3 linked regions of the Homo sapiens genome follow. The protein of the gene in region 1 purifies or fractionates together with the protein of each later gene. This does not show direct contact. Each region holds a gene or a part of one and is shown in the gene's direction. Other genes may lie near its edges. The genes, in order: YBX2, NCBP3 and RCC1L.

Region 1 (3,744 bases):
AACTCTGAAAGGGCCGGAGGGGTGCGGCGGGCGATAGATAGCAAGTGGAGGGTCAGCGAGGAAGCGGAATCCGGCGGCCTCCGGGAGCGGCCGGCAGAGGGCGCGCCGGGACCGGGAGAGGCGACTGCGGCTGCTGCGGGCAGCTGGCGGCGAAGGAGACGCGGAGGACGCCAGCCCTTGGGAAGCGCACGTGGGGCTTGCCCAGCAGCGCCTGGGGGCACGTGTGCTGCCCCGGGGCGCGCTGCCCTGGCTAAAAATACAACGCGCACCCGCGTCCTCCCTGGTGGGGGAGGCGGCCCTAGGGAGGAGATACTGCTGGAGCCTCGTTTTTCTGGGATTACAGGCGTGAGCCACCGCGCCCGGCCCATTTTCTTAATCTTCCCAGGCTCCCGAGAAACCTGGTACAAGCCTCGCACTGCCCCTCAGTCCTCTCATCTGTGGAATGGGGGCCGTTCATGTATTCGATAAATATTGAACGTGTACGTTGTACCAGGCACTGCTGCAGGCGTCCAGCTTAACTACAAGGCTCTTACTGCTGTGGAGTTTACAGCCCACTGTGTGCAGGGAAATAAAATAAGCAAATGGTCAGGATCATGTCATATTTTCAAAAATGCCATTAGAAAAATAAGGAATGGTGTGATGGCGAAGAGTGGCACGTAAGCTGCTGCTTGGAGAGAGCCACCTGGAGACACGAAGGCGCGTTTTCGGCAGAGGAAACCGCATGTGCAAAAGGCCTCGAGTCCGCTGGAGCTTGACGCCTGGCCGGAGACCACAGCCCCCGGCATACAGACGTGAGAGACCCCAAAGCCAGTCTAGGGCGGTAGACATCAGAGCTGCAGCGGTCGGTATGGGCCACATGGGTGGACACATTGATCAAAACTCAGCGAAGGCCGGGCACGGTGGCTTACCCTGTCATCCCAACACTTTGGGAGGCTGAGGCGGGCGGATCACCAGAGGTCAGGAGTTCGAGACCAGCCTGGCCAATATGGTGAAACCCCATCTCTACTAAAAATACAGAAATTAGCCAGGTTGTGGTGGCGCAAGCCTGTAATTCCAGGTACTCAGGAGGCTGAGGAGGGAGAATCGCTTGAACCCGGGAGGCAGAGGCTGCAGTGAGCCCAGATCGCGCACTGCGCTCCAGCCCGGGCGACAGAGGGAGACCTTGTGTCAAAACAAACAAACAAACAAACTCAGCGAAGAAGAATTGCGCATTGTACTACTTGTAAACCTTGTTTCCAATACAAACATAGGTAGGGGCAGGCCGGGAGCCACCTTGAGGTGGCTCAAGGCAGGAGAATCGCTTGAACCAGGGAGGCGGAGGTTGTAGCGAGCCGAGATCGCGCCACTGCACTCTAGTCTGGGCGACAGGGCGAGACCCTGTCTCAAAAAAAAAAAAAAAAAGAAAAGAAAAGAAAAAGAAAGAAAAAAGAAAAGTAGGGGGTCCTGGCTCATGGGAGCAAGTGTGAGCCGGGAAAACCATTCTGCTGCGCTTTCCAGCCTATCCTGCGGTTGGATCCCGCAGCCCCAGGGTGTGCAGGGCCGTCCTGTGGGGAGAGGGTGCCAAGGGCGGTGGTGGCCGGAAGGCGTCTGCACCTGGCAGCATACGGGCAAGGTCGGTCTCGAGGGTGGAGGCGAGCGGTGCTACTCACTGCCAGAACCGAGGCTGCAGATTCCCGCCCCTCGCTCAGGTCGTTAGGGGCAACCTTGGCACTGCGGCCCCGGCCCCGCCCTTCCCGCAGAGGCCAGGTGGCGGTTGGGGCGCGACCGGCCCGTTTGATTTCCCGCGGCCGGTGGAAAGGGGCGGAGGGGGGAGGGGAAAGGGGCCGCCGGCCAATGGGTTGGGCCGGGGGCCGTCACGTGGCGGCCAGGGGGCGGGGCCCAGGTGTACTTACTGGGCGGCTGGCGGGGGCCGGGGCCGCGGTGCGAAGTCCGGGAGGCGGGGTCGGCGTGCGGTCCGGGGGTGCTGCTGGGCTGGGATTGGCCCGTGGTCGGGAGGCGGGGTCTGCGCGAGCGGCGGCAGCGGGCTGCCATTGGCCTCGGCTCCGGGCCCGCTGCCGGCGTGTGGGCGAGGCTCGGGGCGCGAGGACCGAGCAGGGCGGTGGGTTCGCGAGCCGGGGGGAGGGGCCGGGGCGGTGGCGGCTGTGGCCGGTACTGGACCCGGCGGGATGAGCGAGGTGGAGGCGGCAGCGGGGGCTACAGCGGTCCCCGCGGCGACGGTGCCCGCGACGGCGGCAGGGGTGGTAGCGGTGGTGGTACCGGTGCCCGCAGGGGAGCCGCAGAAAGGCGGCGGGGCGGGCGGCGGGGGCGGAGCCGCCTCGGGCCCCGCTGCTGGGACCCCCTCGGCGCCGGGCTCCCGCACCCCTGGCAATCCGGCGACGGCGGTCTCGGGAACCCCCGCCCCCCCGGCCCGGAGTCAGGCGGACAAGCCGGTGCTGGGTGAGGGGCAGGCGCGCACAGGGCGGCTCTGAGGGGTCGGCGGGCTGGGGGAGGGGCAGTGTGGAGCCCGGCAGGATCCGGAAAACCAAAGGCGGCCTGGCCCGCAGGCCCAGAGCGCTAACTGGGCTGGGAGCTGCGCACCAAAGTGGATTCCCCTGGTGGGAAATCCTGCCGTACCTTCCTGGGAGAGAGGGCGGGGCCGGCAGGTTCAGCTAAGGTCTTGGGGTGGAGAATAAAGCCCCAGGGTCCGGCCACGCCCCCGGGCGGGACACAGTGCCTAGTTGACTGGGTTAGAACTAGGCAAACCTCTGAGCCTGGCAAGCAGGTGCACTGGGGACCCTTGCATTGGGAGGGCTAGAAAAACCCTCAGTTATGACCTGGGGGCGGCACTTTGCAGACCAGGTGAGTACCCAGTTCTAGGTGAAGGGGCTGGATTTGTAGGATGTGGGGAACGTGACTTAGAGTTGGAAGGCTTTTTGAAAGCCTGAGTCCCTGTGTGGGTGATTTCATTTGGTGGACTAGGGTAGGAATACCTTGAAGCTACTAGTGAAACCTGGTTGGCTTGAAGGTAACCTGAATAGGTAATAAGGCAGTAGGCTAGATTTTTTTTTGTTTTGGAGTGTCTCAAAACTGAGTTCAACTCCATCTCTTCCCCCCATCTCACTGTCCCCACTGCATCTCTGCCTGGCAGCAATCCAAGTCCTGGGCACTGTCAAATGGTTCAACGTCCGGAATGGTTACGGATTCATCAACAGGTATCCAAGGAACCCAGGGCGGGGGTGGAATGGGTGTCTTCCCAGCTGGCCTGTGGGACTGGACACCCGCCCAACCTCATCGACCCCTGCGGAGGCACATGGTTGCAATGTCCAGCTGATGCTGGTTGAAAGCCTTTAACCGCAGCACAAATGTGTGCTTCGTGACAAGAGGAAGCCTCCTCCGCATCTTCAAGGGTAGCGGAGGATTAATGATTCAGGAACTTGGCAAACCTGGCTCTGACCCTGCCAGCTTCTCATCTCACCTTCTGGAATTGCTTCATTACTTTTACTCTGACATGCCTTTGGGGCAGAATGTATTATAGGGTTCTCTGTGCCTCAGGGCCCCCGGCTGGAATCCTCAACTGATTTCCTGTTATGGCAGCACTCACAACTCAACTCCCTTAAAGAGCTGTGGCTCATTCGAGCCCTCCACCTGTTGGGACTGAGGCTGACAGTGGGGGTCAGGAGGAAGGAGCCAGAGGCTGCTGCTTTCCTTCAGTAGGCAGCCCCACCCCTCAGCACCGGGAGAGGCTGTGGCAGTGGATTCTGAGCA
Region 2 (3,744 bases), 3.4 Mb from region 1:
ACGCGCCTAGGAGCCTTGGTGTTTGCCTGATGTCCCGGCTTGTCCTGGACTCCTCATGTACCTGCCGGCTGGTGTGCCAGGGTGCTGGGGCTCTTCTGGATGGCACTGAACTGCAACACTGAATCCTCACCGAATTGCGTCCTCAAGCAACAAGGCATCCTCCCCAGCAGGGTGAGGGGCCTGCCCAGCCTTCTCTACTGGCCTCCTGGTGTCCATAGCTGAGGAGGGATTACTTCCTCCTCTCCCATCCCCTAACCCCACAGGCCTAGTAATGGTGGGGGCTGTGACTCTTACCTATAGCTGGCCACCCCAACTACACATTTTGTTTGAAATTAAACACACACACACACACACACCCGTACATATTCTATGTATGCATTCAACCCATTTTTTTTTTTTTTTTTTGGAGACGGAGTCTCGCTCTGTCGCCCAGGCTGGAGTGCAGTGGTATGATCTCGGCTCACTGCAACCTCCACCTCCCGGGTTCAAGTGATTCTCCTGCCTCAGCCTCCCAAGTAGTGCATGCCACCATGCCCGGCTAATTTTTTTTTTTTAGTAGAGACACGGTTTCACCATGTTAGCCAGGATGATCTCGATCTCCTGACCTCATGATCTGCCCGCCTTGGCCTCCCAAAGTGTTGGGATTACAGGCATGAGCCACCGTGCCCGGCCTCAACCCAATTTTTAAAAGTACTTTGTGTCCCATTCATCAAATAAAACTAGTCCTCTAAAGAGCTCTGTCTTGTGTTTATCCTGTGGTTTAGCCCAAATTTAAGAAAAACTGTGATGTACTGCACCCCTTCTGTTGGACCCTGTATCTACATATAAATTATCACATTTAACCCTCACAACCTCCTTTGTAGGTAGGTAATGGTCCATTTTACTGATGAAGGAACTGAGACTCCAAAGTGCTAAGCAGCTTGCCTAAGGTCACACATGGTGGATGGGGCCCGGCCAGCCAGCTCGAAACCCAGGTGTGTCTGATGCTGACCATGCTCTTCCTTGGTTTATCATTATTTGCTCCTCCATGGTCAGAGCTGGTAGGGCCTCAGGGCCTCAGAGACTGTAGGGTCTCACCTATGCCCTCCTCAGATGGGAAAACAGACCCAAAAACCTGTCCAAGGTTACCCAGGGAGGAAGATGCAAAATCAGGACTCAGGCCGGGCGCGGTGGCTCATGCCTGTAATCCCAAGACTTTGGGAGGCCGAGGCGGGTGGATCGCTTGAGGTTAGGAATTCGAGACCAGCTTAGTCAACATGGTGAAACCCTGTCTCTACAAAAAAAAAAAAAAAAAAGAAAGAAAGAAAGAAAGAGGAGAGGGAGGAAGGAAGGAAAAGAGAAAGAAAGAAAAGAAGAAAGAAAGGAAGGAAGAAAGGAATAAAGAAAGAAAGAAAGAAAGAAAAAGAAAATCAGGACTCAGAACAGCAGCTGATCAGTGACACCCTCGGGACGCGTAGACAACCCCTCTCCCCCACCAGGCTCTCGTTAGAAATATCCGCCGGAAACTATGCTCACAGGTCTACAGTGGATGGCACCCTCAGGAGTCAGGAAATCGGCGTCCAAGTTCTGGCCTTTGGGCAGGTCTCTCCCTCTTGGAGTCTCAATTTTTGTGTATGTAACATGGGCCAATTTTGGGGAGACTTTTAAGAGACAAAGACTGGCAAGGCAAGTAACTTTATAAACCTACAGATTGTCCAGAGGTGATATATCAAGGCTCATTGTAAACTCTGGAAGACTTAGATCCAGCTTTTATCCCTTAAATGGCGTCACCTTGGGTCAATTTCTATGCCTCAGTTTCCTCATATATGAAATGGGGGTCAAAATAGGATCTACTTCATAGAGTTGTTCTAAGGGTTCGAGCGCTTGGAAGTGTCTGGCCCATAGTGATCACTCAGGAAAGTTGGCTTTTAGTACAGCTTTAGCCTCAAGGCGTAGCTACATTGTAACCCTTGACTACCCCGGTCTCCTCCAAGCTCCGTAGTTCCCGCAGGCCCCGCCCCCGTCCCCGCTCAGTCCCGCCTTCTCCTCCCCAGGTCCCGCCCGCGCAGCCGGCCCGGTTTTCTCCCGCCACCAGGGGGCGGCGGCGCTAAGGGCGGCCTTCTGGGCCGAAGCCGGCGACGCTCTAGGTAGCTGCGGCGGCTCCTCTGTGGCCAGTGGCAGCGGCGCTCTAGCCGGCGGCCGTGAGGGGCGGGCTCTCAGTGGTGCGGCCGGCAGGCAGCGATGGCGGCCGTACGGGGCCTGCGGGTGTCGGTGAAGGCGGAGGCCCCGGCGGGGCCGGCCCTGGGGCTCCCGTCCCCTGAGGCGGAGTCCGGTGTTGACCGTGGCGAGCCGGAGCCCATGGAGGTGGAGGAGGGCGAGCTGGAAATCGTGCCTGTGCGGCGCTCGCTCAAGGAACTGATCCCGGTACGGGCGGGGGTCGGGGGGTAAGGAAGAGGTCGCGGGGCTAGTGTCTAGCGCCGGAGGGGGCCGGAAGGGGCGGTGGCCGGAGCCCCAGCCGGGGAAGTCAAGGGAGCGGGAGAGGAGGGAGCCAGCGTCCTGGGAACGGGAACGCCGGGCTGGAGGAGGGACGCGGAGCGGGAGAAAGGACGCCGGGGCGCCGGAAATGGGTGTTGAGGGGGCTGGGGGGTGGTGGCGGAGAGCTGGGAGGGAGTTGAGGACCCCCCTCCGCTGCCCCCTCTGAGCCGCGCTGTGCAAGGAGGTGAGTGAGGAGGGGCTGGAAGGATGAGATAAAGGGGGAGCCCTGGGCGGGAACAGAACCAGGGGCAGCCCAGAAGGAGCTGTTGGGTGGCGCCAGCAACCAGGTCTCCTTGTGGGTCTTGCCCCGGAGGAATTTGTATCTGGGAAACATGGCACTCGCTCTTTGTCTTGAGAGGGCTGCACTTGTCAGCAGCAGAAACTCACTGTTTCTGTCGTGACTTCGGGGTCATCTTGCCCCCCCCGCAGCTCCAGTGACACCTACACCGTGGCCCCAGCATCTGACTCTTAATGAAAGCAAACTAGCAGACGACCAATAGACATCCTTGGTCCCTCCTTTACCGCGCTGGGGATGGTGAGAGGTGTTTTGCTTGTGACTTGGTGGCTGTATATCCAGTTCTCAGAGCTGGTTTCAGGCCTGGATGACTCCTCTTAATTTCTCACCTAACATGAATTACTTTTGACCACATGTCAACATATTTAGACTGAAGTTATGGAGAAAGGTTAAAGTATGATCGCTAGAGATGGCAAACGTTATAATTATGATTAACAACAGCTAATATAGTAGCATTTACCATTCACTATATTGTGTCACTTAAATATACTGGCCGTGCACGCCTTTAGTGCCAGCTATTCAGGAGTCTAAGTTCCAGACCAGCCTCAGCAATATAGCAAGACCCCTTTGAGGTCCCCCCTTTCCCCTCTCCCCATCTCAAAAACAAAACCAAAATAAATAAATATTACTGCAGTTGTGAAGCAGGTGTTATCATCCCTTTAGTCATTCAGTTCAACATGGTTTTTGTTTTGTTTTGTTTTGAGACGGAGTTCGCTCTTGTTGCCCAGGCTGGAACGCAATGGCGCGATCTCGGCTCACCGCAACTTCCGCCTCCCGGGTTCAAGCCATTCTCCTGCCTCAGCCTCCTGAGTAGCCAAGTACAATGGCCTGATCTTGGCTCACCGCAACCTCCGCCTCCTGGGTTCAAGCTACTCTTCTGCCTCAGCCTCCCAAGTAGTTGAGATTACAGGGATGTGCCACCGTGCCCGGCTAAT
Region 3 (3,744 bases), on another chromosome or scaffold:
GTTTGTTCTTTTAGACAGGGTCTTGCTCTGTCACCCAAGCTGGAGTGTGGTGACAGGATCTCGGCTCACTGCAGCCTCTGTCTCCCAGGTTCAAGTGATCCTCCTATCTCAGCCTCCCGAGTAGCTGGGATTACAGGCTTGCACAACCACACCTTGCTAATTTTTGTATTTTTTGTAGAGATGGGGTCTTGCCGTGTTGCCCAGGATTTTTTTTTTTTTTTGAAAACAGGGTCTTGCTTTGTCGCCCAGGCTGGAGTATGGTGTGATCACACTCACTGCAGCCTCAAACTCCCAGGCTCAAGCTATCCTCCTGCCTCAGCCCCACAAGTAACTGAGATGTGGGATGGGATGACAGGCATGTGCCAGCACCACACCCAAATAATTTTTTTTTCGTTTTTTTTTTAAGAGACGGGGTCTTATGTGTTGATCTCAACCTCCTGGTCTCAAGTGATCCTCTTGCTTCAGCCTCTGGAATAGCTGAGATTACAGGCATGTGCCACCACACACGGCTTATTTTATTATTTATATTTATTTGTTTTATTTTATTTATTTGAGAGATGAGGTCTTCCTATGTTGCCCAGGCTGGTCTCAAACTTCTGCCTCAAGTGGTCTTCCCACCTTGGCCTCACAAAATGTTGGAACTACAGGGGTGAGTCACTGGCTTGGGTGATCTTTATTCTTTAAAACAACTATGTTCAAATTAATCTTCCGTAGGGGATATATTACATCATTTAAAAAGTATTCCAGAAAAGAAGAGAAAAAAAGAGTAAAACTTTACTTGTAGCTCATACACTGGTACCAACTAGTTATTCTTAGACTTGCAGAATTTGGCCTTTTCTGAGTATGTGGGCCCGGGAGGTGACATCTGAGCCACCTGATTCAAACCTCTGCTTCCAGAAACTTTCCAGGACATGTTTTTTTGCTACACGTTGAGACTCATCCCTCAGAGAGGTTCAGTGGTTTCCCAGGGTCACATATCTAAGTTGGAGTCAGAGCCAGGATTTGGACTCAGTTACATCTGACTTTTAAGACAATGGTCTTTCCACGGCCACCCACCTCCCTGGGCGAGCCTGAAGCTGGTGTGGAGAGAAGGCAGCACGCAGTGGCACGGAACATTTGACCAGGCGTTGTCTGGCCTTCCAAGACCCTCTGACCTAAGGGGGAGTGCCACAGACCTACAGCAGGCAGCGAGGGGGTGTGGAGTGGCCTTCACCCCTCATCCCCCAGGGAGCGCCCTGGCTTTCCACAGACAAACATTCCAGCCTGGCTTCGGGGGAGGGCAGGGCATGGACAGCGTGCTGGGCACGTGATGTCCATTCTCTCTCATCCTCCAGACACCTTGAGGGTGGGGTTTCTCCCTCCACAGTGTGCACACGGGGACACGGAAGTCAGGAGCGAAGGGGCTTGCCCCAGGTCTCACGGCCCCTGAGCTCATTGGGTATAATTTGAACTTGCGACTCTGCCTGTAGACGGTGCTTCCCCTCCCCGTGGGCCCTGCAGGTCAGGACCGGTGGGGTCTGGAGACACAAGCTGGGGAGCTCGCTGACTTCTAGCCTCGCTTATACGACTCCTTCCATAGCCCTGGGTCTTAGGTGGTGGTTCTTTTTTTTTTTTTTTTTTTTTGAGGCGATGTCCTGCTTTGTCACCCAGGTTGGAGTACAGTGGCACAATCTGGGCTCACTGCAACCTCCGCCTCCCGGGTTCAAGCGATTCTCTTGCCTCAGCCTCCCCAGTAGCTGGGATTACAGGCATGTGCCACCATGCCTGGCTAATTTTTGTATTTTTAGTAGAGATGAGGTTTCACCATGTTGCCCAGGCTGGTCTCAAACTCCTCACCTCAGGTGATCCACCTGCCTCGGCCTCCCAAAGTGCTGGGATTACAGGTGTGAGCCACTGCTCCTGGCCGGTGGTTCTTTTTTTTTTTTTTTTTTTTTTTTTAATTATTGGCCAGGCGCTATGGCTCATCTCTATAATCCCAGCACTTTGGGAGGCCAAGATGGGCAGATCATGGGGTCAGGAGTTCGATACCAGCCTGACCAACATGGCGAAACCCCGTCTCTACTAAAAATACAAAAATTAGCCAGGCGTGGGGGTGCACGCCTGTAATCCCAGCTACTCAGAAGTCTGAGCAGGAGAATCACTTGAACCTAGGAGGCGGAGGTTGCAGTGAGCCGAGATTGCGCCACTGCACTCCAGCCTGGGCGACAGAGTGATACTCTGTCTCCAAAAAATATATATATATAATTTTATTTATTCATCTGTGTATGTACCCACCTAGGTGGTTCTCACAATGCAGGAGAGGAGTACAAGTTAAAAGCCGGGCACAGGCCAGGCATGGTAACTCAACGCCTATAATCCCAGCGCTTTGAGAGGCTGACGCGAAAGGATTGCTTGAGGCCAGGAGTTCAAGACCAGCCTGGGCAACATAGTGAGACTCCATCTCTACAAAAAACAAATGACCCAGGTGCAGTGGCGTGTGCCTGTAATCCCAGCTCCCTGGGAGGCTGAGGCAGGAGGATCACTTGAGCCCAGGAGTTGGAAGCTGCAGTGAGCTATGATCACACCACTGCGCTCCAGCCGGGGGCAACAGAACAAGACCTTGTCTCTAAACAAAAATTTAAAAATACAAAAGCGGCCGGGCGCAGTGGCTCACGCCTGTAATCCCAGCACTTTGGGGGTGCCGAGGCGGGCGGATCACGAGGTCAGGAGTTTGGGACCAGCTTGGCCAACATGGTGAAACCCTGTCTCCACTAAAAATACAAATATTAGCCAGGTGTGGTGGCGCATGCCTGTAATCCCAGCTACTTGGGGGGCTGAGGCAGGAGAATTGCTTGAACTTGGGAGGCGGAGGTTGCAGTGAGCCGAGATCGTGCCACTGCACTCCAGCCTGGGTGACAGAGCGAGACTCCGTCTCATTGAAAAAAAAAAAATAGAAAAGCTGGTGCCATTGAACTGCAGAGCTGGGCGCCGGAGTAGTCTCCCTTTCTCTGGCTCTCTTGTCCCCACGAAGGACTCACCGCCCAGGGTTCCTTCTTCCCGCACCCCCGTCTTTCACCTGGTGGGCGTTCGTTTTAGCAACTTGTAATTGTGGATAGGGATGTTCCTAAATGGATTCTGCTGAGACTTTTAAGAGAGTCACCAAGGCTAAATATGGTTCTGGTTTTTGGAACTGTTTCCCTCAGCAGCGGAGTTGTGAGTGTAAATTGGCTTAGAAGAAAAACGCCATTTAACCTTGCCTAGGACAAAAATAAAACATGGCTGAGGGCAGTCTCCTCTTGGACTCAGTTCAGAGACCGTGTGAGATTGTCCGCCAGGGGGAGCTGGAACCTTGGGGAGCCTCCCGCTGGTCCCTAGGGCTGGCTCCCAGGAGCCGGGCCCTTGCTGCCCAGGCCACCCGCAGCAGAGACCATCGTGGCTTCCTTTGCTTTGGGCTTGAATGGCCAGAGCCCTCGGGGAGCAAGGACCTGGGGGCTTAAGTGCAGCCGTGAGGAAGCGCACTGTCCCGGGAAAGGTAAATAAAGTGCTCCCTAATGGCTGGGGAGGTTGCTAAGAGGCGGTCGGGGCCCAGTCCCTGCAGAGGCAGCCTGTTTTCTTCTCCGGCCAGCCTCTCAGGCTTTCTGCATCGACGTGCCTTTGCGATTCACTGGGCCCCGTTCTTGTTTGTTTAGTGATTCCTGTAATAGGTTCTGCTAAAGACATTCATTTGTTTAGGGACAGGGCTGGGGGATGACAGCATGACTTGGT

Evidence for each region.
Region 2: the proteins of YBX2 (region 1) and NCBP3 purify together in Homo sapiens (co-immunoprecipitation; 2 studies listed by BioGRID and IntAct, with this or other methods). This does not show direct contact.
Region 3: the proteins of YBX2 (region 1) and RCC1L purify together in Homo sapiens (co-immunoprecipitation; 2 studies listed by BioGRID and IntAct, with this or other methods). This does not show direct contact.

The regions. Positions count from the first base shown.
Region 1 is NC_000017.11:7,292,922-7,296,665, reverse strand, and holds the start of YBX2 (Y-box-binding protein 2), read left to right. Parts: upstream 1-2,026; 5' UTR 2,027-2,165; coding exon 2,166-2,436; intron 2,437-3,127; coding exon 3,128-3,191; intron 3,192-3,744. UniProt on the Homo sapiens protein: Major constituent of messenger ribonucleoprotein particles (mRNPs). Involved in the regulation of the stability and/or translation of germ cell mRNAs. Binds to Y-box consensus promoter element.
Region 2 is NC_000017.11:3,844,700-3,848,443, reverse strand, and holds the start of NCBP3 (nuclear cap-binding protein subunit 3), read left to right. Parts: upstream 1-2,197; 5' UTR 2,198-2,220; coding exon 2,221-2,403; intron 2,404-3,744. UniProt on the Homo sapiens protein: Associates with NCBP1/CBP80 to form an alternative cap-binding complex (CBC) which plays a key role in mRNA export. NCBP3 serves as adapter protein linking the capped RNAs (m7GpppG-capped RNA) to NCBP1/CBP80.
Region 3 is NC_000007.14:75,046,146-75,049,889, reverse strand, and holds part of RCC1L (RCC1-like G exchanging factor-like protein), read left to right. Parts: intron 1-3,744. UniProt on the Homo sapiens protein: Guanine nucleotide exchange factor (GEF) for mitochondrial dynamin-related GTPase OPA1. Activates OPA1, by exchanging bound GDP for free GTP, and drives OPA1 and MFN1-dependent mitochondrial fusion. Plays an essential role in mitochondrial ribosome biogenesis.